Regions from separate parts of the Homo sapiens genome. Here region 2 is linked to region 1. Evidence: fine-mapped expression QTL. A gene starts in region 1. The other region holds a variant in brackets. All regions are shown on one strand. Distances are from middle to middle. Region 1 holds the start of PGGT1B (protein geranylgeranyltransferase type I subunit beta). Region 2 overlaps PGGT1B (protein geranylgeranyltransferase type I subunit beta).

Evidence for each region.
Region 2: its variant is fine-mapped to the expression of PGGT1B in visceral fat (GTEx, PIP above 0.99). The same link has a PIP of 0.9 or more in coronary artery and transverse colon.

Annotation. Positions count from the first base shown.
Region 1 is chr5:115,261,414-115,264,330 of GRCh38, forward strand. PGGT1B (protein geranylgeranyltransferase type I subunit beta) reads right to left here and starts at 1,464. Exons shown (of 9, transcript NM_005023.4): 1 at 1,299-1,464. The coding sequence starts at 1,438. RefSeq lists enhancers at 1,323-1,502, 1,533-1,582.
Region 2 is chr5:115,210,820-115,213,736 of GRCh38, forward strand. PGGT1B (protein geranylgeranyltransferase type I subunit beta) reads right to left here. Exons shown (of 9, transcript NM_005023.4): 9 at 1-1,764. The coding sequence ends at 1,583. Among named protein-coding and RNA genes, the nearest start is that of TRIM36, 42 kb to the left of the region's middle. The variant T/TC (reference allele first, on the strand shown) is at 1,555.

The DNA.
Region 1 (2,917 bases):
TGACCAAAAGGACTAAGCTGTTGCAAATGTTGAAATAGAAACAATTGCCACTGGCCAATATGGCAACTGGGTACTTGAAATGTGGTGGCTACTACCAAAAGAATCACTTAATTTTTAATTTGATTTAATTAATTCAAATCAAAATAGCCAAATGTGGCTAGTGGCTACCAGATTGGACAGGGCAGCCCAGTCCTAAGTATAGAGGTAAACAAGATAGACGAAAATGTTACCTTTGTGAAGTTTATAATCCAGTGTAATAGAAAGACATTAAACAAATAAACCAATACATACGTAATGTGAGGTGGTCATTGGAAGTGGTCCCTTTAGGAAGGGTGTTTAAGGAAGGCCTCTCTAAAGATATCTGGATTATGTACATGCCTGTCTATATACTCCTATGAACACTACACTAACATATAGCACAGAACTCTATACAAATGCTTGTCTTGTTCAGCTGTACTCTGGCACCTACCATAATGTGGTTCTTGACCAAGTGTGCAGAAGTAATCTGCAAAGCTCCCCAAACTGATCCGGTCATGCAGTGTTCAAAATACACCAGCAACTCAGAATTTGGAAAACGTGGGGAAAGAACACAGCAAAAACAAGCCGCTCTTTCCTCCCATCCAGTCTCAAGCAGCTTTTGAGCTTCACTTCAAAACACAGCAATGCGGAGCAAAGATTGCCTTCTCCTTTCTTTCTTCTCATCCCCAGCTTTTACTGTAAATGAAGTCGCTTAGTCTCTGCCGCACCACACTCTTCAGCTATTGCGATACTTTTAACAGGCTGCTTCACGCAACACCACACCTCTTTCGCCTACCATTAGATTTATAGTTCCCACAAAGTTTCTAAGACCTTAGAGGTTCTCTGCCGCTCCTACACATAAAACACCATACAGACACTCTATTAAGAGTTAATGACTTTAGAGAGGACAAGGATGCACAGAAGTATTCATCTAAAAATACGACGACAAACTTTGTCCTTTTCCTTTTACACTCGGAAGTAATGAGGCAAAGTGACAGGCTATGGGAGCGGGTAAAAAAGCAGCTCAGAGTTGCCAGAAGAAAAGGGAAGTGAAAAAGCCGGAAACTGGAGATGCCACAGCCCTCGACCTACAGCCTTCCAGACCTTCCCACCGTACGGCGGGAGAGTGGGGGTAACCTCAAGCCCACTTGAAACCAGTCAGTGCCAACTGGGCGGCCGCGCAGCCCCCTTCCGGCGCCCAGTTTGCGGTCCGACTCCGCCGCGCCTTTCCGCTGGAGCCCGGGCCTTGTGCCAGCCTGGCTGACTGTGCCACGAGTTACCTGCTTGTCTCGAGTGAAGAATAGCGCTCCGGCAAAACCTGGAGGCAGCGCTGGAAAAATCGCACGTGCCGATCCCGTAAGAAATCCAGCCGCTCTCCCTCACCGCTCCCTGCTAGCCTCTCATCCTCAGTGGCCGCCATGCTGCTCCGGAAGCGACGTCCGCCGCGACCCGGAATCAGTGCCCGCGGAGAGAAAGAACCCTCCTGTGCTGAACCACAGGGTGCCGGGTGAGGGGACCTGCGCCCGCCGCAGACTAAGCCAGTATTTGAAACCGCTATCATCTGGGTCCTGTGCAGCACTTCCTCTCTCCGATATCTCCCTAGCTAGCGCATGACCCTACCTTTTCTACTCAAAGCCCTCGAGGCTTGTAAACACCTCGCAGGCCTTGTGAAAATCAAGTCCACAAATCCCTCCGTCAGAATTTTTATCTTGGGAAGCGCAAGGTCAAAAGCATCAAGTACGCTTTGAGACAATTCTGGCTCTGTAGAACCTGAGGATGGTATATCTGAAAACGAGGATGGATCAGTATAAACTTGCTAACAGATTCATTTTTGGAGGGCCAGTTTTAAGCCGAACGGTTAGGGAAACAGAAAAACAAACCAGTGGAGATAAATGTTTATTGACACTACAAAAGCTCAGAGACTTTCCTAATCTTAATCCTTTCTGGATACCAGGAATCACTTAAAAATCTGTGTATAATGCCCCCAAACATATACAACATGCATATTCATACCTATATATGACTGCTTGCGTCATTCTTTTACAAATCTTACAGATTTTACTTTGCTTGAGTCGACGTGTTATCAAGAATCAATGGTGCATCAATCTGCAACAGCAAAATAAGCTCAATATCTTCTCCAATTACCTGCATTCTAAAAAATTTAAACATGCTTCTAGTTCTTTTTTCCAAAAATAGGGATTTAAGTTGTTTAGCCGGTATACTATGCCCTTTAAACTTTCATGAGGCATTCCTGAGTAGCGGGTGGGGGGATCCACCCAATAATATAACTAAACTAGGTTCCCTGTGATCAACTTAGCTAATAAAATTTTGGGTTTAATTTTGTTAGCTTTCTTAGAAAATGTAATTCTTATACTCTATGGGCTGGGGTAATCTTACACTTATTCAACAATCCAAAGTGCTCTGAATAATTTTTGGTACTATTAACTACTTATTCACAGGTATTCCTGCATGTCTTTACAAAATGCCGCATTTAACAGCCACAGACGGATTCTAGGCTGTCCTCGGTACTTCCCTACAAATACGGAGCTCACAGTCCTTGCCCTTCAGGTGTGCCCAGTCTGGAGTTTCCACTGTTATTAAAATTAAGATCTCTCACTTAGCACACATACCCCCAAATGCCTGAAGATTTTTAAAGTGGAGTCTTATACACATTTAACTTACTGGAATCAGCTATGGACACTCTATACATTCTCAGAAAATTAATTCTAATAAACATGGCCCTTAAGTTAGGGAAGCCAAATGTTTCATCTGATTCTCAGCTCAAGGACTAGCAATCTGATCCAAATCTAGAGGAAAAATTTGCAATGTGGGACTCATTCAGAGATAATACAGAATGCCTCCTAGGTCGGTAAAAGGCTTTCCATGAGTGATTTTATCC
Region 2 (2,917 bases), 51 kb before region 1:
ACGGATAACATCTGTTATTAAGCTTACTTTTTCCCCCACCATCAGAAGATTTATTTTATTTCTAATTAAAAAACATACAGTTGGCAAACTCAGGTTTAAAACTAAGCATGCCAATAATAAATCAATCATTTCTCCAAGTACACAGTGTTTCCCTTGGGAAGGACTGTTATTTCACAACATTTTTTTCCCTCTGATTTAGAAAAAAAGATAACATTTAAAGTATTACAATGCCTAAACAGTGATACCAGTAATCCAGTTTTTATACTGATACTTGTATTTCAACATTTATTATCACCAAGACTAACTTAAAGCCAACTCCTTTAGTGAAGAGATTTCTTTCCCCATTTCAGTACTAGACGCAATAGTTCTGAATGTCACTGAGCAAGTAACGGATATGAGTTATTGATAAATTAATTACTAATGAAGAGTTTTTATACTACCTCCTTTATAATTAGCTAGTTCATAGACTTAAAACAAAACAATGAACAAAAACAAAACCCTATTTCTTACCCTCTAAATGGTCGCATTTCCCTTTCACTTACCTGAAAATATGAGAATAAAAATGACCATGTATTGAGTTACACCACTGAATCTGTTTGAATGGTTCTGTTTTTGTATTTTTTACTTATTTAATTTGAAAAAAATTAGAAAAGTATTAGTTTGAAATTAGAGCAGCTAACACACTGGGGGCAATAAATTAAAAACTTCAAATGGCTAAAAATGAAAACACAAAGTATCTTTCCTTCTAGATAAAAAAGATTGTTTTCTTCCTAGAAAGCAAAAAAAAAAAAAAAAAAAAAAAGGCAACTAATGATTTGAGAATAAAATCAAACATAACTGGTATTCACCACAGCAATGTCTAGATAAATGACCCACATAGCACAAAACTTTCTCATTCACAATCACATACAGTTAAGTTGCTTTTCCCTCAGTTACATAATAGTTGTCTTCAAACAATCTCCTTTTAGAAAACTATCACATTAGTTAAACCTATTTATTCTTACTATGAAGTTATTAACTTCATTTATATAGGCCACACAGGTTTAATTGGCACACTTTACTTAAGAATAAGACAAAATAAGTCACTCTTCTTTAAAAAAAATTATGGTCATCTGTTTTCAAAGAATAATCCCAGATACTTAATTAATTAAAGCAAATTTTCTACGATCAGCAGTGAGCTTTTTAAATGATCACTAAGTGTTCACCTGAAGATTATCAATGCTATATGAAGTGTAAACTTGAAAATTTGTGTCCATTTTATAATAAGATACAATTTGCACTGAAGAGTTTTTAAAAAGATAACCTACACACATACAGTTAATTTGCCTCAAACAACTTCTTAGAAATACAGTATAAACATTTAAGAACCACGACAAAGTTGTGGTTCAAACTTCAACAAAGATTTTCTTGAAACCCAGTATAAAGATTACTGGCTCAAGACCATATCCCAAAGTGAAATCAGCAGGAGATTTGATTGTAAGACTCTACCTTTTAAAAAAAGAGCACACTTGGTTATACATGGCTTTTAAACTTGAGCTACAGTTATGCTACAAA[T/TC]CCCCCCACCCTCCCAATCTAAAATCAGTCATGTGGAGATATGTACATTCTCTGAGCATTGTTTAGAGTCCTTGGTTTTCCAGCTTTGATGGAGATCTAGAAGGCGTTCAGAAGTCCGTGTGCTTACATTCAGAGCAGGATGAACTTTACAAATTCCACTTTCCTCCATTAGTGACAGGCCACAGATCCCAAAGTATGCATGCAAAGCATCTGAAAAGAAGGCATTTAAAACATCATAATAGGCATTCTTACTTGTACATTCTACAGAATATTTTAGCCACATATTTACCAGCCCATCACTCCATTAAAAGTAAGTTTAGAGAAATGCTAATATAGTTTTAAAAATATTTGCTTTCTCAAAGCCTCAAACACCAATTAAAAAAAAAACTCAGATGATCAAAATAAAATATTTTATTCATGAAAATATCATTAACAAAGGAAAACAGTTTCCAGCTGAAGAGCTGATACTGTCCATAACCTCTGTGATTAAAAGACAGGAGTAGCAGCAGTCATATGTAAGACTTCTCACTTTGGGGAGTTTCCCCTCTTGCTTACTAGAGAACATGAAAACGAGTAGCTTCAATGCTATATCATTAAGTTTTTTTTTCTTTAAAACGAAAACAAAACTCTGAATCTAAGTTGCAATATCCCTCGCTCCACGTTTTACCTCTGAAAGTTCCTAAACCATATGCAGTACTATCCTAACATTGTGTTAAATAAAAGGAGCTTATGCAAAAATAATCCATTCTGGAATGCTGTGCCATATTTAATCCTCCTATTTAGGGTAATGTCAGTCATTGTAAAAATATCTGATCTGACAATAAAAACAAACTCACATTCTATTTGGTTGAAATAATATGAGTGCTCATACCATGACAATTCTGCACTGGCTCACTAGTTTCCCATCTTTCAGGGGGCAGCGATCCTCTTCTATTAAAGTGGCCAATGAAATCACATGGCCATTCCTGCCTAGGAGTCTTATGTAGACTTCTGAAGAGCTCAGAGCTTTGCAGTTATAGGAACATTAAAAAGACAGTTTTGTACCAGTCAAAATTTTTTTCTATTTTTGAATTGGCCGACATTTATGGCCTTAAGAGCTATTAAAGTTCAAAACAGGCTGGGTGTGGTGGCTCACACCTGTAATCCCAGCACTTTGGGAGGCCGAGAAGGGCATATTCCTTGAGCCACAGGAGTTCGATACCAGCCTGGGCAATACGGTGAAGCTCCATCTCTACAAAAAATACAAAAATTACCAGGTATGGTGGCGTGCGCCTGTAGTTCCGGCTACTCGGGAGGCTGAGGTGGGAGGCTCACCTGAGCCTAGGGAGGTTGAGGCTGCAGTGAGGCATGATTATATCACTGC